Linked DNA regions of Homo sapiens: regions 1 and 3 are each linked to region 2. Evidence: fine-mapped expression QTL. A gene starts in region 2. Each other region holds a variant in brackets. All regions are shown on one strand. Distances are from middle to middle. Region 1 holds the start of LOC105377519 (a long non-coding RNA gene). Region 2 holds the start of CPE (carboxypeptidase E). Region 3 overlaps LOC105377519 (a long non-coding RNA gene).

Region 1 (6,897 bases), 29 kb after region 2:
GGACACAGTGGGAGTGAGATCAGCCTTTAGGACTGTGGGCTGAGTGGGAGTGGGGTGATGCCTGTGACTGCCAGCTGTCCCCCATTTCCCTGCTGAGTCCTGTATGACTCAGCAGAGGCAGCCATAATCCCCCTGGGAATATAACTCCACTGGACTGGGAACCACATCCCCATCCCCCACAGCAGCCACAGCAAGACCTGCCCAAAGAGAGGATGAGCTCAGACACACCTATCCCTACCCCCACTTAGTGGTCTTTCTCTACCCACCCTGGTAGCCAAAGACAAAGGTCATTATCTCTTGGGAGCTCTATGGCCCTGTCCACCACCTGAGAAACCTGAATACTTAAACAGGTGTCCCTAGGGCAAGTTCGTATCCTCCCTATAGGACCACAGCTGATGAGTTCTTGAAAGCGCCACCTCCTGGCTGGAGGCCAACCAACACAAAACCAGCACACTAAACAAAAACACAAGCAAGGACTTTCAACAGAGTCCACTTCACTCCCCTGCTACCTCAACCAGAGCAGGTGCTGGTATCCACGGCTGAAAGACCTGAAGACCAGTCACATCATAGGACTCTGCAGATGCTCCCCAGTACCAGCCCAGAGCCCGGTAGCTCCACTGGGTGGAGGTCACAAACAGTCACCACAGTTCAGCTCTCAGGAAGCTCCATTCCAAGGGGAAGGGGGAGAACACCACATCAAGGGAGCATACTGTGGGACAAAAGAATCTGAACAGCAGCCCTTGAATCTCGGATCCTCCCTCTGACATAGTTTACCCAAATAAGGAATCAGAAAAACAATTCTGGTAATATGACAAAACAAGGGTCTTCCACACCCCCAAAAGATCATACCAGCTCACCAGCAATGGATCCAATCCAAGATTAAATGTCTGAATTGCCAGAAAAGGAATTCAGACGGTCGATTATTAAGCCAATCAAGGAGGCACAAGAGAAAGGTGAAGTCCAACTTAATGAAATCAAAAACGTGATAAAGGATATGAAAGGAAATTTCTCTAATGAAATAGATAGCATAAATAAAAAACAGTCACAACTTCTGGAAATCAAGAACACATTTAGAGAAATGCAAAATGTACCGGAAAGTCTCAGCAATAGAATCAAACAAGCAGAAGAAAGAACTTCAGAGCTCAAAGACAAGGTTTTTGAATTAACCCAATCTGTCAAAGACAAAAGAATTTTTAAAAATGAACAAAGCTTCCGGCTGGGCATGGTGGCTTACTCCTGTAATCTCAACACTTTGGGAGGCTGACCCAGGCAGATCATCTGAGGTCAGGAGCTTGAGACCAGCCTGACCAACATGATGAAACCTCATCTCTACTAAAAATACAAAAAAAATACAAAAACTAGCCAGTTATGGTGGTGCATGCCTGTAGCCCCAGCTACTCGAGAGGCTGAGGCAGGAGGATCGCTTGAACCCAGGTTGCAGTGAGCTGAGATCATGCCACTGTACTCCAGCCTGGGCAACAGAGCGAGACTCCATCTCAAAAAACAAAACAAAACAAAACCTCCCACCACCAACAACAAAAAAAAACCTTGTAAGCTTTACTTAAAAATGTTTGCAACAATAAACTAAAATATCTACATTAGAACCATGGTAGCTGGAAGTATCATTAGAAATAATCCAGTTCAGGCTAGCTGTGGTGGCTCATCCCTGTAATTCCAACACTTTGGAAGGCCAGGATGGAAGGATAGCTTAAGGCCAGGAGTTTGAGACCAGCTTGAACAACATAGCAATACCACATCTCTAAAAAAAAAAAAAAAAAAAAAAAATTTTTTTTTAAATTAGCTGAGCATCTGAGCATGGTGGCACATGCCAGTAGTCCTAGCTACTCAGGAGACTGAGGCAGGAGGATTGTTTGAGCCCAAGAGTTCAAGGCTGCAGCCACCATGATCATGCCACTACACTCCAGCCTGGAGGACAGAGTGAAACCCTGTCTCAAAAAAGAGATATAATCCAGTTCAAATTCATCCTCATTTCATGATAAGTGCTTGAGGTGATGAATATGCTAATTCCCCTGATTTGATCGTACACATTCTATACAACTATATCATGAAATATCATACTGTACCCCATAAATACATATGATTATTATGTATCAATTAAAATTCATTTTTAGGCCCAGTGCAGTGGCTCATGCCTGTAATCCCTGCACTTTGGGAGGCTGAGGCAAGTAGATCACTTGAGGTCAGGAGTTTGAGACCAGCCTGACCAATATGGTGAAACCATTTCTCCACTTAAAAAATACAATAATTAGCCCTGGGAGTGGTGGTGCACGCCTGTGGTCCTAGCTACTCATGAGCCTGAGGTGGGAGAATCTCTTGAACCTGGGAGGAGGAGGTTGCAGTGAGCCAAGATTGTGCCACTGTACTCTGGGCAACATATCGAGACTCTGTTTCAAAATAAATAAAATAATAAAATAAAATTTATTTTTAGAAATTCATCCTCATTTTAAGGATCTCTTTCGTTATATACTGACTAAGAATCCTATAGTTGCTGCCTAAACCATCAATGAAGGGGAAGATAACTAGCTCTAATTTTAAGAAAGTTCTTCCAAAGTTTGAATTTTTAAACAGCAAACACCTAGAACTTTATTTCCTGATACACTTATGCTTTCTGGGGCAATAATGAATGACTCACCCTCTTTTACATAATATCATTTCAGACATTTGAACACACCTTTGATATTTCTATTTAGTCCTCTTTTCTCTGACCAGTTCTGTCTAATGGAACTTTCTGTAATGATGGAAATGTTCTATAATCTGTACTCAGAGATGTCAATGGCCACATCAGCTCATGACTACTGTACTGGACAGAGCTGCTCTAGACTATCCCTCTGTTTCCTTAAATTATCTTGTGTAATTACTGCTAGACCTTAAGCAATTCCTTGCTGGACACAGTGGCTCATGACTGTAATCCCAGCACATTGGAAGGCTAAAGTGGGTGGATCACTTGAGGCCAGGAGTTCAAGACTTGTCTGGACAACATGGCAAAACCCTGTCTCTACTAAAAATACAAAAATTAGCTGAGTGTGAGGGTGTGTGCCTGTAGTCCCAGCTACTTGGGGGACTGAGATATGAAAATCACTGGAACCCAGGAGGTGGAGGTTGCAGTGAGCTGAGATAACACCGCTGCACTCCAGCCTGAGCAATACAGTGAGACTCTGTCTCAGAAACAAAAACAAACACAAAATAACAACAAAAATCCTGATTACTCTCTTGTCTCCTGTGGATGTTAGTCATATATGATGCACTAAGCATAATATGCTTTTCCACCCGTAACCAACCAAAGCAGAATAAAAGGAGATCACTGTCTTCTCTGTAATTTAGGCTTACCTTTAATAATTTAGCGTACGGTTGTCTTAAGTTGTGGGGAAGTGAGCACTTGTAGTCCACTAAAATCCTTACGGCTCTTGGGTATGTATCGCTGTTAATCCTGGTTATGTTTCCTCTCCTCCATTTGTGCAGCTGAACTTTTAAATCAAGGCAAACATTTTGCAGGATCTTGATTCTGTCCTGTAGAACAAAGTGTCAGTTGCTGTTTTTCTTCTGCCTCAGTATTAAATTTGATAAGCTTGGCAGCAGTGGCCTTATCTAGGTCAATGATAAACATGTTTAACAGGACAAGGCTACAGGCAAAGCCTCAAGTCACAACACTAGAAACTCTCCTTGGTCAAGAGAATTTGGATTCACTTGCTGAACCAGGTAAGACTCTAACTACATTTCTGGTCCAAAGTGGACAATTGACAAAGGAAGTAGTCACGCTCTTGATTGTGTAGTGATCAAATGGATGTAACCATTCATCAAGCTGTGTGCTTTTCTGGTGTGTTTGTATGGTGTGGTTCCATTAAAAATTAAATACCCTGGTATTGTGTAATACTAAAAGCCAGCATTTCAATTTCACTTCAAAACTCTATTACAAAGCCTTTAGGCCACAGGTCCCTTTTCCAACTCTGTAGAGCCACACTTCCCAAGGGGCAGATTTATTCTTTGGAGAAATGGAACAGAAGAGGCTCAAGACTCTCCTGATGCTGAGGAGGCCTTGGGTGAGCTAGGCAGGTGGCAGAAGAGGGATTCTGTGAAAGGGAACCCACTCAACTGTCAGATCCTGTCTCCTCCCACATATGTGATTCCCAGCATGAAGACATATGAGCAGTTTCTGCCCCAGACAGTGATTAGAAGATTTTTTTGAAGAAACTGAACC[A/G]AACCCACAGAAAAATACTTAACAAAGTTGGAAAAGATTGACTGGCTGCCTGATCATCTATGGCTTTACAATCACATTTACAAATTCTTTCTGTCACCTGGAATGCAAGTTATCTGACTTTGGAGACTTAAAAGTTTATTTAAGGACAGGCGCGGTGGCTCACACCTGTAATCCCAGGACTTTGGGAGGCCGAGGTGGGTGGATCACGAGGTCAGGAGATCAAGACCATCCTAGCTAACACGATGAAACCCTATCTCCACTAAAAATACAAAAAATTAGCCAGGCATGGTGGCACACACCTGTAGTCCCAGCTACTCGGGAAGCTGAGGCAGAAGAATTGCTTAAGCCCAGGAGGCGGAGGTTGCAGTGAGCCGAGATAGCGCCACTGCACTCCAGCCTGGGTGACAGAGCGAGACTCCATCTCGAAAAAAAAAAAAAAGTTTATTAAAATGTATGAAACACTTTGCTAAAAATTTCCTCCTCTTTGGGATTTGCTTCCCTTTGAACGGGGCTAGTTTGTTTCCTTTTCCAACTTGAAGATCATTTTCCTGTGACATAGAAATGCAAAAATTAGGTAGCTCAGCCTCCCATTCTAATATGTTAATGGTATATTACCTACTCCTGGGCAGTGACCAATTCCTTATTCTTCTACCTCTATACCATCATGATATTTTATTATTATCAGATGAATTATTTTATAGCAAAAAAAATCTCAGAGAACCTTCATGGAATACAAGAGGTCTGATTGAAATCTGCCAACAGACTAAATAGTTCTAAATTTTCTTTATTAGCTGGACACGAACTCAAACGGACATGAACGTGCTCTGATACATAATTTGTTCCTTCAAAGAGCATATCAAGCTGCATATCCCACAAGAACATGACCAGTGAAATCAAACTTTAAGATGCCAAAGCATTAGAATGTAGCCAGACTTCAACTGAACCCGGCAGCCCCTGCACCTGGTTCTGGCTCTGGCTTGTATTTCAAGAACCCTCTTCTTTCCTTGTCTTCTCCTTCCCCATCATTTGCTGTTAATTACTAAAAACCTTCTGAACTGATTACTAAAATGGCAGCTTAATTGTCACTCCTATATTATGATGTTATTACAATGTCCTCTCTTCGTTTTAATTGACAGATATTTATTGAACTCCTACCATGTTCAAGGCAAGGTGCCAGGTATACATACCAAGGGAGAAAATACACACAGTGGGAAGATCTCAGCTCTGCAGTCAGCTTTGCCATGAACTACCCGCGTGCCTTTGACCATGTTAATAACATTCACTGGCTGAAGGTTAGGCATGAGCAAATGTGCAGAAGAACGAAAGCACACGGTGCAAAAGAGAGATCTTTGGCTAAAAAAGAGGTAGCAATACAATTTGCAAATGTGATTGTAAAACCATTTTAAATAATCAGGCAGCAAGTCAATCTTTTCAAACTTTGGATGTATTTTTCTGTGGGTTGGGTTCAGTTTCTTCAAAAATATCTTCCAATCTCTGTCTGAAGCAGAAAACACAAGGTGGCGTATGCTGAGAGGTGGTAGAGATGAGTGTTACAGAACTCTGAGTGAGGGAGAGTGGGAGAGATTTCTCTAATCTGAAGCAGAAATAAGACCTCAGAAAGAAGAGTGGGGCTGATGGAGTGGTGCGGTGAGTCTTGAACCGGATCTTTAAATAAAGGGAGGGAATTTAAAAAAAATAGCTAACATTCATTACACGCATCGCATACTTCACATGGTGCATCTTACTGAATCCTCACAAACCGCCCATGAAGTATTATTATCCTCATTTCATAGATGAGGAAATAGCTCTCCAGAGAGAGGAGGGGGAAAGGCTTTCCAGGGAGTGAGCCAATCACCAGGAGCCAAGGAGCTTCATAATGCAAGGGAGCAAGACCGGCTGGCAGGGCATACATGGCAATCTCTCCTGTTACTATCCCAGCAGTGCTGGTTTCAGCATCCTATACGCAGCTTGCAGGTTAGTTATCCCATGTTCTCATTCCGTCATGGTCCCTTTCCTTTTGTGAGTGCACAATAAGCAGCCTGTGTCCCTGAGTTGAATTACTTATCTTCCTAATAGTTTGAAAGTAACATTTCCTATCTTAGATTCTAGCCATTCATGTCCTTTTTCTTTAGACTTTTAGAATGCAACAGACCTCTAAGCATATGTACTAAAGACATTTTACCATGGCCCTCTGATGATTTCATGTAAGAATGTCAACATTTGGCAGTCACTTGCAGAGACAGCATTCATTAGACTAATAGCATGCTACTCTTTCTAACATTGGCTGAAAAATTCTATTCTTTTGCAAGAATGGATTAGGAGCTAAACCTTCAGAAACAAGGTGCTCACTCTTCAGGAAGAGCTTAGATACTATCTCTCTCTGTGGAAATACAGAACTTAAATGTGGAATTAAAAAGCCCTACTAGGCCAAGCACGGTGGCTCACGCCTGTAATCCCAGCACTTTGGGAGGCTGAGGCGGGCGGACCACGAGGTCAGGAGTTCAAGACCAGCCTGGCCAACATGGTGAAGCCCCGTCTTTACTAAAAAATACAAAAAATTAGCTGGGCGTGGTGGCGGGCACCTGTAATCCCAGGTACTCAGGAGGCTGAGGCAGGAGAATCGCTTGAACCCGGGAGGTGGAGGTTGCGAGGTTGCAGTAAGCCGAGATTGTGCCACTGCA
Region 2 (10,909 bases):
AGCACTTAGAATCAGCCCCTAGCCTAGTCTAAGCCCATTCTTCATCCCAGTTCCAAATGGGCCACAAACACTAACTCCCAGTGTAGAGGAAACCCATCTGGGGTCCAGACTTAACAATGTCTGAAAAGATGAGACCAATGACAGGACCATTTGTGATTCTGCTTATTGAAATTGGCTGCTACTCGCAACTCTCTTTCAATAGATTTTTGCAGACCTCAGAAGTGATACAAAATGATGACTGAGACCCAACATTCAGCTGGTCAACAATCAAGCTGATTCCTAAGATGTCATCACAGAATAGGTTTGGCTATTCCTCAATGACCAATTCAAAATGGAATTTGCTTTGCCTTTTGATGAATTCAAAAGTTGAACATCTTGCAAAGAAAGTCATTTTCAGGAGATAACCTCAACTACACCCCATGTCCTGTACCAAGCATGTATAAAGATCACTTCTTTCTGCTCAGGAAGAGAGCTAATTGTATCAACAAACATCTCTGTCCAAAAACTGCTAGTCTAACAAAGTAAACCTCTAGCTTGCTTATTCTACCACAAGAAAGGGCTTTTTGTGGGTATGTTGTTGTATTTTCTTGGAGTTCTTCTGTTACGACAACTAAATCCTTAGAAATCCACTGTTTTTTTAATGTTCAGGAAAAGAATCTAGATTAAGAAAACTAATCAACAAATCTGACACCTCTCTTGCTGGAAAATAAAACAAAAGTGAGCAATTTCACCTCAAAATTTCAGTCAAGTAAACACATTTCTTAAGTTCAATATTATTTCCTAAAGCTGAATCAGAAAGGTTATTTCAAACCAAAAAATAAGGTACTTAAAAGGTGAAAATAGTAAAGACAATTGGCCCTTTTTCAAAAGCAGGGGTCCTAGTGAAGACAGATATCTATACCAGCTATTTTGGAATTTGTAAATGTCAACAAACTGTACATTTCCTGTCTTTTGTCATCAATTCTTCAATAATCCAGTCTCCCTGACCTGCTGACCTACTGTCTTTTGTCATCAATTCTTCAATAATCCAGTCTCCCTGACCTGCTGACCTACTGTCTTTTGTCATCAATTCTTCAATAATCCAGTCTCCCTGACCTGCTGACCTTACTGTCTTTTTCTCCAGTCCTCCCAAAGCCGATCTTGCAGCCTCACATCCCTTTATGCTGTTCTTCAAGCTCCCAATTCTCTATTGCCCTCAGGGCAAGCGACTATCTTCTGTGTTATCTTCTATGGGTTGTGCAGAGGCACAACTCACAGACGCCTGGTCCACCTTGAGTATACAGGTGCTCAAAAAAAACACTGAATGAGCCCACTTGTACCTCAGAATAAGTATTCCTTTTTACTTCTTAAAATAGTTTAACCTAAAAGAAACTGAAAGGCCATTTAAGAATGGTGAACATTTTCCTTTTTCCAAACTTCCTTAAAGTTAATTCACACAAGCACCATCAAACTTGTATACTGATCAGATCTCTATATTTACTAGTTTCCTGAAGATCTCTAACCTCCTTGACGCTCATAAAAGGTGATGGAGGGGGATATCACCTTGTACTTTTGTTAGTGTTGGTTTATAATAGTTTATTTCTACTTTTAAAAATATAAGGGACACAGACATTTTGTATTCTATTAGTAATACCATAGACTTAGAGTCTCCTTCATTTAAAAAGGAATTGTAAAGTACATATTGTACAACACTTCCGAGTTTGTCTCTGTAAGAGGAATTCAATCAACGTATTTTGAATGTATGAAGAATAAAACATTTTATTTTAATACACTGTGTTATGCAGCTATTGATGGATTCATTTTTTCCACACTGCATATTCAGTATTTTTCCATAATGTAGATTATTTCATAATGTATATTCAAGCCCGCTGTGTGCCAAACATGAGCTGGGTGCTGGAATCAGGGTCCCCACTTCATACAGCTTGCAATCTAAAAGAAGGATTTGCAAACCTTGATGAACTATATATTCCAGATACTTAAGCAAAGAAATCATTGTTTTCATTTTCTAAAGCATATCACATTCTAACTGTAATATCACTTTAAAATTTTATTTCCAAATTTGAAACAACAAAAAGTTAAACATTAGCTTTCATATAATCTCTTGAAGTAACAACGCAAAAAACTCTGGGATCAATCTACAAAATAGAGTAACAAAGGGTTCTCATTAAGTAAGCAGCAGGAGACTCACAAATACTTACATTAGCTTTAACTGTGCCTAGGATATCTTGGCTTTGGTTATTGGATTTAGCTGAAAATCAGTTATCACATTTTAAATTTTTCCCTGTCTTCAGATAACAGTATGAAACTAAGTTTCAAAATGTCCAATCCTACATGCTGAATCCTGGTAGATAAGAGTAGTTAATATTAAATGTTTTCTAGGATCTGATCTTAGAATTTTGACAGCAAACTTACATGAACCTTTTTTTCTTATATTATTTGAAGGTAAGAAATATTTCCTGAAGATTTATTCTTGATCAACCCACCTACTATATATTTGAAGATCAAAATGTCTATTGATCACTTATTTTAATCTCTTCTCAGTTTGGTTCTTACGTATCATTATAAAACTATACTGGCCCTGCACTGAGAATTTTTAGCCTACTTTTCTTGCTTGCTTTGTCATTAAACAAAAATTAAGCATCCATCCCATGCTGATATTATTAGCACAGATTACTTTAGCTGTACCTTGATTATCAGAAGACCAGGCCCAAATTATTTCCTAAGCAGAAACATAACGAAAAAAGTCCCAAGAACATTTTTAAATACCTCTTTATTAATACTAAATGCATCACAATTAACATAAACCAAAAGGTGCTTTAATATACTCCTAGGAAAGACGAATACAGATGGTTATTTGGGAACATCAGTTGGAATAAAGACCCCATCACAAACTATTCATCTCAAATGGTTATAGCAGAGAAAATGGAATACTCCTTTTTCCTTGGAAAGGCCTTGTGCAGTTTCAAAATCTGGTTTCAAAAGTCAGAAACCACTTTTCACCCTGGTAGGAGGAGGGGCACCAACGTATCTTTATACACCACCACCCCAGATTGGCAATATCCCTAAGATTCCCCAAGCATCCACAGCAGCGAGTGTACCTAATACGTATACACACACAGGTAGAGATGGGTACACAGAGCCAATAAACTGGTCCTCTGGAAATTAGAGAAAACATGATAAATGACTCTTTCTCCCTCGTTCTCCTTTCCTCTCAATCACTGCCTTCTGCACCTTATCTTTCTACTCTTGTCAGCAAGGAAGACCAACCCCCCTTGCGGGGGACTCGCAATCATTCCTTTGGGTTTTTCACACAGCAAAGTGAGAGCGACCGCTGGGGTTGCGTGCGTCAGGATTTGTTTTTTCTGTATTGCTATCCCCCCCATCCCCCGCCACCCCAGCCTCCCAAGCCTATACTTACTAGAGGGTGGCCTAAGGTCTGGGGAGATGGGATTGGTGCTGGGGGGATGGGACGGGAAAGCAGAAATTGGGCCACTGGCGCTCTAAGTCGGGTTCTTCCCCATTTCCATCCCTCCCTCCACTTCCCACCTTCCACCTTAGATACCTTTTACCAAGAGGCACCCCTGGGCCCATCCCTCCCTCCTTCCCCCACCGCCACCAGTCCCACCCTCTGCCGCCCCCCTCCGGGATGCCCCCAGGGCTGTCAGGGGGCAGCGCCCTTACCAGGCTCATGGACGCCAGGGTTGTCGGACAGCTCGATGACCAGGAGCTCCCGGCCCTCGAAGCTGCGCCCCACCGTGTAAATCCTGCTGATGGCGGTGCACTGCAGCCACACGGACACGAGCGCCTCGCGCAGCTCGGGGTAGCGGTGGTACTCGAAGGAGATGCCGTCCTCTTGCTGCAGCCGCCGGCGCCGCCTCATGCCCGCCGCGGGCGCCCCGGGCTCCTGGGCTTCGGCGCCCAGGAGCCACCCGCAGGCAGCCAGTGCCCCGCACAGAGCCAGCAGCGCGCTGCCCCCTCGCCCGGCCATCGCTGCGCTCCGCCGCCGCCGGCCGTGCCTTCCTACGCGGGCGGCCTCTTTTGTCTGCCCGGCCCTGGGCTTAGCCCGCCGGCGCTGCTGGGGGCGGCAAGTTCCGCACCAGCCTCTACTCGCCTCACCTTCCCCGGCTGAATGAGTGTCAGCCCGCGCACTGGGGCCACCCAGAGGAGACGGGCAAAGCCGCGGCTCCACGGGCTGCACTACTGGCCGCGGAGCCCAGGGGAGCTGCAGGAGAAACCACTGCGAGGAGGGGGCCGGCGGAGAGACGGGCCGGCGTGGATCTGGGAGGGCTGCTGGCGTTATTTGCTGGCTCGGAACCACGTCAACAGCCAAATGGCGTCCGGGACGACGCAGGTGAAATGACAGCTAAGGTCCGGGGTTCGGGAACGTTACTGTCATTGAGACACCCATGACCCACCCACGTCACTGCGTATGGAAAAAATATTCTTGTATTGTTAGTGGAGCCTTTTAAAGGGACATCTATTCCAAGCCTACCAGTTTCCATCTTGATCCACCAAGAATTAGAGAATATTCCAGAAAAAAGGAAGTACTGGCAGCCACTTGCCATCTCCTGATGCGTCTTTCATAATTGTATCAAGAGTCAAAACACAAACCCAAGGGTTGGGTTTTCATTTATTAGAAGGTCTTGCTGGAAATCAGAACATTAAGTGCTTTGATTTAGAGGTTTAAGAGAATAGAAATGCTTTCTTCCAATTTGTAGATACTGTCCTTAATTGTATTTATGCACATTCCTAGATTCTTCCAGAAAACAAACAGACAAAATAAATAAGGCAATGTCATATGGCTGTGCCTGCACCAGCCCTCCTCTTTAATACTATGGGGAAAATAAGTACAACTCTGCTGATGCTTTAGACAAAGGATTTAGTTTGGCATTAAGATTAAATCCTGTTAAGAAAACTCTGATGATGACATGACACCTCCGTTCCTTTTGCAAAGCTATTGTAAAAATAAAAAATCATTTACAGCTTTAAATATCCACCCCTTAGTCGGGATTTATATTCCTGGAGCAATGTCTGGAGCAGATGTTACTCTAAAGAGGCTGCTGTTTGGATTCAGGGACAGCACAAATCTAAATTAATAAATAATCCATTGGGTATTGCAACCGAGCAGGAAAAGTGGACACCATGCGGGTAATTTTCCATGTTAAGCTTCTTTGTTTTTCTAAACTTGTTCATTCTTCACCTGTTTAACAATGCATTGCACATAATAAAAACTTTTACGTGGAAAAGGAGTTAGATATTTAAGTCATCTTATTGGATCAATAAATAAAAGCACAGACATGGTTGGTAAGGTGCTGCTGGAGGGGCTGGCTTTAAACACCCCTATGTACATATACTACAGCAGCATGGATCTTCTTTTTTTTTTTTTTTTTTTTTTTGCGTTTTCGGGGAGAAACTGTCACTGTAAACACATGGCACTCAAGTTGAATTGATGTGGATCCAGCCATTTTTTTTTTTGTCAATGTAGGCAGAGCTAAAAATTGTATATTTTCCACTATGACCAGTCTGTGCTTGATTACATGGTCCAGAAGTTTGAAATCAAACTTATAATTATATTTCTAAAACCATGCCCAAAACAGCAACCTTGGAAGCCTAGAAAAAAAAATTGAGTAGCTAAAACCAAATAACTTCAGAAGTAGGAGGTTAAGATTTTCATGTTAGCAATTTAGAGTAACCACACTAATTTGTGGCTAGGTGGGGCATACTGACTAGTAACTACACACATAAACAACATATTTTTCATTGAAGTCCTGTGTTGTTCCTTAGCTGTCTCTTTGAACAAAGGATATGCGTTCTATTTTCTCCAAAATAAAAAATTTTGGAATGAAAACTTGGTCTTTGAATTTCTGGGCTATTTTTAGGTGTAGGTCAGCTGTACCAACTTTACTGGCATATGTATTACTTGTTTGTGGCTTCATAGGCAATTATACAAAAGATTATATATCCACCCTGATTGCTGGATTTAAAAAATTTTATTTTGGAGAAAAAAAAATTGTAATGTGTAAAATCATGCCTACTATGTGGTCTCACTTGTTGGGCAGGGGGTTCTCTTTTACAGCTTAGTTGTTTGTTTCCCTAATCTATAAAATAAAAGGTTTGGATTTTTCACTCTCTAACGTTTGCTTGCAACAGAATCATGTAGAGAGTTTATAGAATGTGCAGATTCTTAAGCCCCTATGAATTCATCAGGTCTGGGGTGGGTTTCAGGTATTAACAAGCTTCTAGGTTTTAAAAAGAAGACCAGTCATTTCTGATGTTGATGTTTGATTGACAAAGACATTTTGAGAAATAATGTACTGTAGGTTTCCCACTGTCTCTTTCAGACCTAAAATGCTATGATTCTGGAAATTTTCTTTTTGAAGTGAATTCCTGCTCATTTGATAAATGGTGGCACTCCTCACATATTATTGGTCGTACTACATACACCAAGGCATCAGTTCAAATGAACTAAAATTTGGTCTTTGAATTTCTGAGCTATTTTAGGTATAGGTCAGCTGTATCAACTTTACTGGCGTATGGATTACTTGTTTGTGGCTTCATAGGCAATTATGTAAAAGATTATATACCCATCCTGATTGCTGGATTAAAGAAAAATCTTGTATGCCAAGTCTTTAATGTGTGTACACATAGTTAAATTTAGTATGCAATCTCCATTTCAAATCATGTGCACACATGCACACACAAGAAACAAAAAGAGAAAGAAAGAGCTGCTTTTTCTTCATGTCATTATAGGCATCCATAAGAGCATATTTAAACTCCCTAGGTCTCCCTCCACTTCTTGCTTCACCTCTATTATCTTTAAATTAAGAAACTATCTTTTTCTTTATCAATAATATTTTATTTCCTTCTTTCAAAGCCCTTCCTAAAATTCGTCTACTTCATAAAAATTTTGTGAACACATAGCTCTATATTCATCCTGATGTGTGCTGGTAAATGTCAGCTGTCTGGGGGGAAAAGTCTGACTTAGAATGTTTGCTAATTTCCATGGTTTAAATATTCCCACCATGGCTGATTTCAAACTACCAATGTTGTATCACTGAATACAGTGTTAGGAAGAGATATGCAGTAGCATGACATCATATAGTGTTGTGATGGGACAATTCTTTATACTCCTCCTTTGCAAGTGATGAAACTTAATTTCTTCCATCTGAGTGTAGGCAGGACTTAGTGGTTTTCTCATGAACATAACACAGCAAAAGTAATGAGATGATCTTCCAAAATTAGGTTATTAAAAAGACTGCAGCTCCCATCTTAATTGCTCTCTCATGCTTGTGTGTGCGCTCTCTCCTCCCCCTCTCCCTCTCTCTCTCCCTCCTTTCCTTCCCCCAGTCCCCCATCACTCCATCGCTTGTCTTGGGGAAGTTGTCTGCCATATTGTGGAGAGGCTTATATAGCAAGGAACTGAGGCATCTGGCAAACAGCCTGAGAGAAACTGACATCCTCGGTCTAGCATTCAGTTAAGAACTGAGGTCTGTCAACAACCATGTGGGTGGGCAGGGGCAGATCTCAGCCCCACCTGAGCCTCAAGAGGGCTCCATCTCTGACATCTGAGGTTTACCACAGCCACATTAGAGACTCTGAGCCAGAACCACCACTAATACATACATCTCCCCCATACAGATACAATAGACATAAATAACCTCAAGAACATCAAGGATAGAGTGATGTCAGCAAGATAGCAGAATAGGAAGTTCCAGCCCTCATTTCCCAACAGAAACACAGATTTAACAGTGATATAAGTAACAAATTAGCTTCATAAGAAGTTCAGGATTAAGTTAAGAAATTTCAGTACCCCAGACAAACAAAAAATCACAATCAGCCACACTGAAACAGATAAGAAAAGCTATTTCACTTTACCTGCGAGTACAACTCAGCACCAGAGAGACTACAATCCTTTCCTGGTGTAGGGAGGGCAGGGGATAGAGAGTAGGGTGAGCATCCAACATTTCTGGCCTTTCAGTACACCCCTCAAGGGGCTGGCTTCTGTTGTGCCTCTTACAGAGTGCTTAAAGACATGGCATAGTCCAGATGCCTGGGAAAGCTAGGAGAATGGGCACCTTCCCATGGCTGGCAAGGCTCGGAGAGATCTGTAGAAGGCATAGAACTAAGGCCTCTCCTTCAGGAAAGAAGGAGGAGTGGATCATGACTCTAATGTCCTGAGCCTTTCAGTGAGCTCCCTGAAGAGCTAGTTTCTATCTCATCTCATATGGAGCACAGATGAGACTGACATGGGAACCAGAGGGAGCAAGAGATTGCTAGTGCTGAAAAGAAAAGAAAGGAAAAGAAAAAAGAAAAGAAAAGAAAAAGACTGAACACCTGGATCAGGACCTAGGAACAAGACCCAGAAACTCTATCTGGGCTGTCTTTCCCTATCAAAGCCAGTTCATTAAGAGTGGAGAACATGTCATTAAGACATGGATGTCACATGTAAAGACATCAATGCAAAGCTACAAGTAACATGAAGAAACAGGAAAATAAAACGCAATCAAAAGAACAAAATAAATATACAACAACTGGCCCTAAAAAAATGGAGATCTATGAATTGTCTGACAAAGAATTCAAAATGATCATCTTAAAGTAGCTCAACAAGTTACAAGAGAACCCAGATAGACAACTAAACAAAATGAGGGAAATAACACATTAAATAAATGAGAATATTATGAAGAAATAGAAAAGATAAAGAAGAACCAAATGGAAATTCTGAGGTGAAAGAATGCAATAACTGAAATAAGAAATTCATCATAAGGGTTTAACAGCAGATTTGATCAAACAGAAGAATTAGTCAACTCCAAGACAGGTCATTTGAGATTATCCAGTCAGAGAAGCAAAAAGCAAAGAAAATCAAAAAGAGTGAAGAGAGTCTAAGGGAATTATCAGACACCACCAAGTGAACAAATATATTGATTATGGGTGTCCAGAAGGAGAAGAGAGAGACAAAGAAACATGGAAACCATAAAGAAAATACATACAATAGATAAAGAAAAAGAAATAAATACATACATACAAAAGAAAAAATAAGGGAATCAAAGCATATCACTACAAAAAAATCAGCAAAACACAAAGGAAGACAGCAACAGAGGAAAAGAGAGACAAAAGAACTACAAAACAGAAAATGACAAAATATCAATAGTAAATCCTTACCTATCGATAATGTAAATGTAAACGGATTAAATGCTCCAATAAAAGTACGTAGAATAGCTGAATGGATTAAAAAAATAATTATATGTTGTGAGCAGGAGGCATTCTTTAGAATCAAAGATACACATAGGCTAAAAGTAAAGAGATGAAAAAAGATATTCCATGCAAATGATAACCAAAAGAGATCAAGGATAACTATAATCATATCAAATAAAATAGAATTTAAGTCAGAAACTGGCATAGGAGGTCCCCATTATTTAATGATGAAAGGGATAAATCATCAAGAAGACGTAACAATTAAAAAATGTGGCACATATACACCATGGAATACTATGCGGCCATAAAAAATGATGAGTTCTTGTCCTTTGTAGGGACATGGATGAAGCTGGAAACCATCATTCTCAGCAAACTATCGCAAGGACAAAAAAACCAAACACCGCATGTTCTCACTCATAGGTGGGAATTGAACAATGAGAACACATGGACACAGGAAAGGGAACATCACACACTGGGGCCTGTTGTGGGGTGGGGAGAGAGTGGAGGGATAGCATTTGGAGATATACCTAATGTTAAATGACGAGTTACTGGGTGCAGCACACCAACATGGCAGATGTATACATATGTAAGTAACCTGCACGTTGTGCACATGTACCCTAAAACTTAAAGTATAATAAAAAAAATATATATATGCTCCCAACATTAGAGCACCAAAATATATAAAGCAAACATTGACAGGCTTGAAGGAAAAGTAGAGAGCAACACAATAAAATAGGGGACTTCATACCCTACTTTCGATAATTGATAGAACATTCAGACAGAAAATCAAAAAGGAAACAGCAGACTTGAACAACAGTATAGACCAAATGGACCTAAAAGACATATACATAACATTCCACTCAATAGCAGCAAAATACATTCTTCTCAAGTGCATGCAGAACAGTGTCAAATTCACATGTGATCACATGTTAGGCTATAAAATAAGTCTCAACAAATTTAAGATTGAAATCATACCAAATATCTTTTCTGACCACAATGAAATGAAACTAGAAATCAAAAACAAAAGGAAAACTGGAAAATTCACAAATATGTGGAAATTAAACATCACACTTTTAAATAACCATTGGGCCGAAGAAAAAAATCAAAGGATAAATTAGAAGATATTTCAAGGGGAGGGCACGGTGGCTCATGCCTATAATCCCGGCACTTGGCAAGGCCAAGGTGGGTGGACCACCTGAGGTAAGGAGTTCAAGACCAGCCTGACCAACATGGTAAAAACCCGTCTCTACTAAAAATACAAAATTAGCCAGGCGTGGTGGTGCATGCCTGTAATCCCAATTATTTGGGAGTCTGAGGCAGGAGAATCACTTGAACCTGGGAGGCAGAGGTTGCAGTGAACCGAGATCACACCATTGCACTCCAGCCTAGGCAACAAGAGCAAAACTCTGTCTCAAAAAAAAAAAAAAATTTCAACACAAGTGAATGCACAATATACAAAAATTTATGGGATGCAGCAGAAGCAGTACTAAGAGAGAAGTTTATAGTAATGAACATGTATGGTAAAAAAAGAAAAAAAGGGCTCAGATAAACAGCCTAACATTACATTTCAATAAACTAGAGAAAGAATAACAAACTAAGTTCAAAGCTAGCATAAGGAAAGAAGTAATAAAGATTACAGCAAATATAAATAAAATAGAATATAGAAAAAATCAACAAAACTGAGTTTCTAAGAAAAACAAAATCAGCAAATCTTTAC
Region 3 (8,175 bases), 21 kb after region 2:
CATATAAATAGGAAATAGTGAAGACAGGGTGGCAGGAAAACAGCATTATTTCCATGGTGTACTGGAGGGCTTTCCATTCATTCATTCAACAAACTTTTATTTAGGACCTAGTAAATGCCACGGGCTCGGCTTTTACTGAGTAAGATGTGGTCAGAAAGGAATATGAAATTGATTAAGTTGTAGTTCCTACCAGGGAAGTATTCAGACCTCCCTCTCCAGGCTGAAGAAACAAGATTGCCTCATCCAGTGATAAGCACATTCCCTGTCTAGAACCAATCATCATGCAGAGGAGAGTTTATTTCAATTGGGATTTAGCAGAAGTGAGGGCTGGGAAAAACATATGCTTTTAAGAAGTGATTTTTGGAGTATTTTGAACACTCTGAAAACAATACACAGCAGGTCCTTGAATTATGTCATTTTGTTCCAACATTGATGAGAAAGAAAAATGATTTCCAGCTGGAGCCAGCCAACATCTGTGGAGAGTTTGCACGTTCTCCCTGTGTCTACGTGGGTTTTCTCTTGGTAGTCCGGTTTCCTCCCACATCCCAGAGATGTGCATGTTGATTTGATTGATGTGTCTACATTGTCCCGGTCTGAGCCAGTGTGGGTGTGTGTATGAGTGTGCCCTGCCATGGAATGGCATCCTGGCCAGTGGGTTCCCACATTATGTCCTGAGCTGCTGGGACAGCCTCCAGCCACCTATGACCCTGAAGTGAAATAAGCAAGTAAATAATCTTACTTTTTAAAATTAATCTTTCCTAAATGTACATATAGCTCACAATTTTTTCCGTGTTTAATATTAGAAGTGTTTGGGGTCTTTATTTAGAAGCTCGTGGTGGTTTTATGACCAGAAGTATGCTGTAGGAACTTAACTCTTGTTTATATCAATTAGCTTATGGTAAAATTAGTTTCTTTATATGTCATTTTGTTTAAAGTTGCAGTTTCCAAGACCTACTGATGACATTAAATGAGGACTAATTGTATAATGAATGTTCAATAACTAGATTGGTTAAATAATTAATGAATTGACAGATTCAGAACACACCACACCCCAGCTCCTTGGGACACTTATGGCAGGAAGTGTTACCAAACACAATGAGTCATTAATACTGTGTGGTTGGGTAAAAAAATTAGGTTCGGCTGCCACATTGCTTAAAATTGTTTAATAAAGGATTCTTCCAAGCTTCAATTTTTTTAACTTGTTCTTTCTGTTTCCTTGCCTCGGCAAACCAATATTTTGGCTCCTTGAGTTTTCTTATATTTTATTTACTACTTGCAGAAACCCTAACAACCCCACCACCATCCCTACTTGAACTTGGTTTTAGCTCTTCCTGGGAACTAGCTTCTTATCTCCTTAGCTTGTTCAGGCTGACTCCCAATACCTATGCTAGTTCATTAGCGATTTAATAAATCCACTCCTAGGTATCTACCACTAACCCATGCTTGTCCAGACAGCCAACAAGTGCTGTGCCAAAAGCACCATCAAAATAAATGGCACAGGCGAGGCACAGTGGCTCACGCCTGTAATCCCAACACTTCGGGAGGCCGAGGTGGGTGGATCACTTGAGGCCAGGAGTTCGAGGCTAGCCTGGTCAACATGGTGAAACCCCATCTATACCAAAAAATAGAAAAATTAGCCAGGCGTGGTGGTGTGCACCTCTAGCTACTCGGGAGGCTGAGGCACAAGAATCGCTTGAACCCAGGAGGTGGAGGTTGCAGTGACCCGAGATTGCACCACTGCACTCCAGCCTGGGCGACAGAGAGAGACCCTGTCTCAATAAATAAGTAAATAAACAAATAAATGGCACAAATGGTGCCTTGAACTGATAGGATTATGCAGGAGAGGAAATAGAGGACAGGTGAGGGTTAGTCACACAGGTTTGCTGATGGAAACAAGCCACAAAGCTCTATGGTCTTCCTTCCACTTCTCTTGCTTCTTGTGCACAGCATTGCAGCAGGGCAGCCTCCCTTGTCTAAAAAGCTTCAGAAACAAACTCCAAAGCACATAATGACCTAGCTTTGCACATTTCTCCAACTTGTCCCGCCATCTCTGCATCCTCTCCAATCATACAATCTTCTTTCAGTATCTGGTTTATTCTATTCTCTGTCTTGCCAGCAGATCTTAGCATATTTTGTTGCCTTTACTTGAATCACTCTTCCCCTCTGTCCCCCTTCATTTCTGGTTAGCTTTTAGTTGTCCTTCTGGTCTCATGGTACACATTATTTCCTCTGGGAGCTTTGTCCTAACAGCTTCCATTAAGCAAAAAAGATACTGTTGCTATGTGATCTCAGAGTTCCTTAAGCCTCTCTCACGTTTCAGAGGTTTTTAATAATTACTTATTTCATTGTCCATAATCTCCCCTGTACTATAAATTGTGCGAGGGCTGGAATCTTGTCTCTCAAGGCCCCTAGTGTACCCTAGCACCTAGCAGCATTTGACACATAATGGAAAACTAAGTAAATATTATTGATTGAATGAATGAATACATAAATTCTTAGAGATCAAGCTATGCTCCTCAGTTGACATCTGATATGCTGCTATTTAAGTCGAACCTCAACAATTCAAAAATAACTTGCTCAAAATCTACACTCATTAAGCTGCAACTCCTTCCATAATTGCGGGAAACAGTTGATGGTTGTGGCTTAATGCAGGTATGAGAGCAATGTTGCTGGGCTTGATGAAGAACCCATCACCACTACCTACTCCTGCCAGTTTATATGGAGATACAGGTTGTAACCAAAGAAACCTGGAATGCAACAGTACTGACTTCGAAGTCCTGAGTAGATGAATTAGACTTGGTTTATTGCAACTAAACTAAATTTAAATGGCTTAAATAAGAAGGGAAGGGAAGGGAAGGGAAGGGAAGGGAAGGGAAGGGAAGGGAAGGGAAGGGAAGGGAAGGGAAGGCAATGCCTGTAATCCCAGCTACTCGGGAGGCTGAGGCAGAAGAATCACTTGAAACCAAGAGGCAGAGGTTGCAGTGAGCCAAGACCACGCCACTGCACTCCAGCCTGGGTGACAGAGCAAGACTCTCTTTCAAAAAAGGGAAGGGAAGAAGGAGAGAGGCAGGGAGGGAGGGAGGGAGGGAAGGAGATTCACTATTTCAGTAAGACCAAGAAAATGCTTCATGACTTATTTCTAATTGGCTCCTTGTTTCTGAAGGACAACCACTTTCCCCTAACACCCGGTGGCCAGGATTAGATGTTAATCACTGCTGATTTCTTAGTCTGGGACTCTTCAGTAAAGAATGAAAGCTGTAAAGCAGGCATGCTGCCCTATTAAAAAGGAATTTTCTCAATAGCCAGTTCTCAGAATACTGTTGCCATCCTGTTGCTCATCCCCACTGCCCTGAACTAGCACATTCGAGAATAATTCTTAGTCTTCATAGTCTTGTCTGAGGAACGCTTTCTAATATGTGAGTTTTGTGCAGAACCCAGGGATGGCTAGAGAAAACCCTTGATTAAATGGTAAAAATAGACCGGAGATGGTGGCTCAAGCCTGTAATCCCAGAGCTTTGGGAGGCAGAGGCAGGCAGATCACTTGATGTCAGGAATTCGAGATCAGCCTGGCCAATGTGGGGAAACCCTGTCTCTACTAAAAATACAGAAATTATCTGGGTATGGTGGCACATGCTGTAATCCCAGCTACTCAGGAGGCTGAGGCAGAAGAATCACTTGAACCCAAGAGGCAGAGGTTGTAGTGAGCCAAGACCACACCACTGGACTCCAGCCTGGGTGACAGAGTGACACTCTCTCAAAAAAAAAAAAAAAAAAAAAAGGTAAAAATAAACTGGAATAGAATGAAAAAACAAAACCATGAAAAGATCATTCATTTGGGTAACCTAAATTGTCTGGGGGGAAAAGTCAGCTGAACCACTTAGTCCCGGGTTATTTATGCTTTCCATCCAGCACAGCACTCCTCACAGCAGGAAAATCACTCTTGTTTTTGAGGTGTTATAACAGATGTTACATGATAAGAGATTATTCATTTGAATGAAAATCAGAAAAAACTGATAAAATAGCTGATAAAAATCATTTTAATGTAAAATTCCCAAATTGAAAAAATGTAAAAGTTTTTGTTCTTAACACAACCATTAAAAGTTGTATACTGTGAACTAATGGATATTTTAAGTTTAAACATATATTTGGTAGTTATATCAAATTATTTTTATATATTGCATATATCTACCCATCACATTTTACAGGAAAAAAATTGGCAAACCTGTAATAATCAGTGTGTGCATGGGAAAATAATAGTTTCCAGTGAAAAAGATCTGCACTGGTTCTCAGATTTTCCATATTCTTGGGTCCAACTGGCTGGCAGTCTATTTTTAAAATACTAATTAAGTAATTCAGAAAATTAAGCATCATTTGCTTTTTTAAAAATTTGTTGGTTTTTTGTTGCTGTTGTTTCTGATATGAGTTGGGCACTCTGCTGTTTGGTGTGTTTTTCTTTATGGCTGTGTTTCATTCTTAAAAGTTTGCAAGAGGAGCATCATTATTCCCATTTTATGTACAAGGAAACAGAGATTCACTTGAGTGACGTGTCTAAGGGCACACAAGTAAGTCACACAGTAAATGGCAGAGTTTGACTCCACACTGAGGTCTAAGTAGTTCCTGTGCTCAGTCTT[C/T]GGGCCTCACAGCTTCAAGCAAAATACTGCCACCAGCTGGTGAGTGAACTATTGCCAAATGCTGAATTTGCTCTCCAGTGGTCTCAGCTCACAGCCCCCTTAAAAAAAAAAAATAGTCTGTCTGTCACAGGAAGGAGATTCAAACTCTGAGTAGATAACTAAACTAAATGACTTTTAAGGTCATTGAGGACACAGAATTATTATGCAATGTCTTTGCCTGTCTCAGAAAATCACATTGCCTTCCAGATAAGTGTTCAAGCTAAGAAGAGATAGAAAAAAAAATCTTCCTTCTGTATTACAGTCTTAGAGAATGGGATGAGCTATTTGTAAGTAAGCATTATTCTAGCATCTCTGATCTTACAATTAAGGAAATCATGTCCATATTGTTTGTTATAGGCTGAATCGTGTCTCCCAAAACGATGTTGAAGTCCTAACTCCAACCCCCACTCTCTGTGAATGTGATCTTATTTGGAAAAGGGACCTTTGCAAATGATCGAGTTAAGATGAGGTAATACGGGTGGGTCAATATGACTGTTGTTTTTATGAAAATGGGAAATCAGGACACAAAGAAAGATAGACATAGAGAGAATACGGTGTGAACATGAAGGCAGAGACCGGGGTAATGCATCTACAAGCCAAGAAATGCAAAAGGCATGCCAGCAAACTATTAGAAGCTAAGAGGGGCCGGGCGCAGTGGCTCATGCCTGTAATCCCAACCCTTTGGGAGGCCAAGGTGGGTGAATCACCTGAAGTCAGGAGTTTGAGACCAGCCTGGCCATCATGATGTAACCCCATCTCTCCTAAAACTATAAAAATTAGCTGGGCATGGTGGCAGGCGCCTGTAATCCCAGCTACTCAGGAGGCTGAGGCAGGAGAATCACTTGAAACCAGGAGGCAGAGATTTCAGTGAACGGAGATCATGCCATTGCACTCCAGCCTGGGCAACAAGAGCAAAACTCTTTCTCAAAAAAAAAAAAAAAAAAAGGAATGGAAAAAGAAATATAGAAGCTAGGAGGGAGGCATGAAAAAGATTTTCCCTCAGAGACTTGAGAAGGAGCTAACCCTGCTGACACCTTGATCTCACTTTTGGCTTCCAGAACTGTGAGACGATACATTTCTCTTGTTTAAGCCATCCAGGTTGTTGCTTATTGTTATGGCAGCCCTAACAAACTAATACACTGCTAACTGTTTGCCTTTTTGTTTTTTAAACAGCTTTATTGAGGAATAATTCATGTACCATGCAATTTGCCCTTTTAAAGTATACAATTCAATGTCTTTTAGTATATTCATAGGGCCATGCCACCATCACCACAATCTAATTTTAGAACATGTTTAGCTCCCCTAAAAGAAACCTGCTAGTGGATAAGCAGTCAGTCCCTATTCTTCCCTCCTAAGCCCCAACCCCCAGCCCTAAGCAACCGCAAATCCACTTTCTGTGCCTATAAATTTATCTCTTTTGAATAATTTATATAAATGGTATCATATATATAATATATGGTCTTTTGTGACTGACTTCTTTCTCATAGTATATTCAAGGGTCATTCGTGCTGTAGCATGAATCAGTACTGTATTCATTTTATGGCTGAATGACATGCCATTGTATGAGTATTCCATATTTTTTAATTCATTCATTAGTTCAAGGGTTCCCAATCCCCGGGCTGTGGACCAGTACCCATCATGGCCTGTTAGGAACCAGGTCACACAGCAGGAGGTGAGTGGTGGGTGAGTGAGCATTACCACCTGCGCTGCACCTCCTGTCAGATCAGTGGTGGCATTAGAGTCTCACAGGAGCGCAAACCCTACTGTGAACTGCACATGCAAGGGATCTAGGTTGTGTGCTCCTTATGAAAATCTAATGTCTGATGATCTGAGGTGGAACAGTTTCATCCCAAAACCACCAACCCCCACCCCGTCTGTGAAAAAATTGTCTGCCATGAAACCGGTCCCTGGGGCCAAAAAGATTGGGGACCACTGGATTAGATGATAGACATTTGGAGTGTTTCCTCTTGTTGCTATTATGAATAATGCTACTATGAACATTCATGTACAATTTTTGTGTTCACATACATTTTCATTTCTCTTGGGTATATACCTAGGAGTGGAATTGCTGGGTCCTATGGTAACTCTATGTTTAATATTTTGATGAACCGCCAAACTCATTTCAAAGCAGCTGCACCATCTAACATTCCCGCCAGCAACATAGAAAGGTTCCAACTTCCCCACATCCTTTCCAACACTTGCTATTGCTTATCTTTTATATTACAGCCATTATCATGGGTGTGAAGTAACATCTCATTGTGGTTTGGGCTTGTGTTTCCCTAAAGAGTAATGATGTTGAGCAACTTTTAATGTACATATTGGCTGTTGGCTGTTTGTATATTTTCTTTTTTTTTTTGAGATGGAGTCTCGCTCTGTTGCCCAGGCTGGAGTGCAGTGGCACAATCTTGGCTTACTGCAATCTCCACCTCCTGGGTTCAAGCAATTCTCCTGCCTCAGCCTCCTGAGTAGCTGGGACTACAGGTGCCTGCCACCACACCCAGCTAACTTTTTGTATTTTTAGTAGAGATGGGGTTTCACCATATTGGCCAGGCTGGTCTCGATCTCCTGACCTTGTGATCCACCTGCCTCAGCCTCCCAAAGTTCTGGGATTATAGGCGTGAGCCACTGTGCCTGGCTGGCTGTTTGTATATTTTCTTTGGAGAAATGTCTATTCAAATCTTTTTTTTTTTTTAAGTTTTACTTTAAGCTCTGAGATACATGTGCAGAATGTGCAGGTTTGTTACATAAGTATATATGCGCCATGGTGGTTTGCTGCACCTATCAACCCATCATCTAGGTTTTAAGCACCGCATGCATTAGGTCTTTGTCCTAATGCTCTCCCTCCCCTTGTTCCCCAACCCCCCAACAGGCCCCAGTGTGTGATGTTCCCCTCTCTGTGTCCATGTTTTCTCATTCTTCAGCTCCCACTTATGAGTGAGAGCATGTGGTGTTTGGTTTTCTGTTCCTGTGTTAGTTTGCTGAGAATTGGGTTATCTCTTGTTGTTATTATTGAGTTTGAGTTCTTTATATATTATGGACACAAATTCTTTATCAGATATAGGATGTGCAAATATTTTCTCCCATTCTGTGTATTGTCTTCAGTTTCTTGATGGTATCATTTGCAGCACAAAATTCTTCACATAGTCCATTGTATTCATCATTTTATTTTGTTGCTTGTATTTTTGGGGTCATAAATAAGGGATCATTGCTAATCCAAGGCAACTCCTTCACTTCCTTCTAAGAGGGTTATCAATTTTGCTTTTACATTTAGTGCTATCATCTGAGTTACTTTTTTGTGTATGGAGTGAGGTAGATCTATAATGTCATCCTTTTGCATGTAGATGTCCAGTTGTTCCTTCACTATTTGTTGAAAATACTGTTCTTTACTCCTTAAATTATCTTGGAACACTGTTAAAATCTATTGCCATCACTATCAGGGTTTACATCTGAAGTTCAAACCTACGCCATTTTTATATGTCTACCCTTATGCCAAAACCACGCTGTC

What was found. PIP is the estimated chance that this variant, and not a neighbour inherited with it, causes the effect. A credible set is the group of variants that fine-mapping cannot tell apart.
Region 1: its variant is the best candidate, but not a certain one, in a credible set for the expression of CPE in monocytes (TOPMed, PIP 0.77).
Region 3: its variant is the best candidate, but not a certain one, in a credible set for the expression of CPE in blood mononuclear cells (TOPMed, PIP 0.73).

Annotation. Positions count from the first base shown.
Region 1 is chr4:165,345,067-165,351,963 of GRCh38, reverse strand. It overlaps LOC105377519 (a long non-coding RNA gene), which reads right to left and starts at 3,769. Exons shown (of 3, transcript XR_939416.2): 1 at 3,349-3,769. RefSeq lists an enhancer at 1-516 and a silencer at 5,633-5,927. The variant A/G (reference allele first, on the strand shown) is at 4,217.
Region 2 is chr4:165,372,301-165,383,209 of GRCh38, reverse strand. CPE (carboxypeptidase E) reads right to left here and starts at 4,202. Exons shown (of 9, transcript NM_001873.4): 1 at 3,682-4,202. The coding sequence starts at 3,988. RefSeq lists an enhancer at 1,886-2,430 and a silencer at 3,910-4,169.
Region 3 is chr4:165,352,622-165,360,796 of GRCh38, reverse strand. All of the region lies in intron 2 of LOC105377519 (a long non-coding RNA gene), which reads right to left. Among named protein-coding and RNA genes, the nearest start is that of CPE, 22 kb to the left of the region's middle. RefSeq lists an enhancer at 8,150-8,175. The variant C/T (reference allele first, on the strand shown) is at 4,632.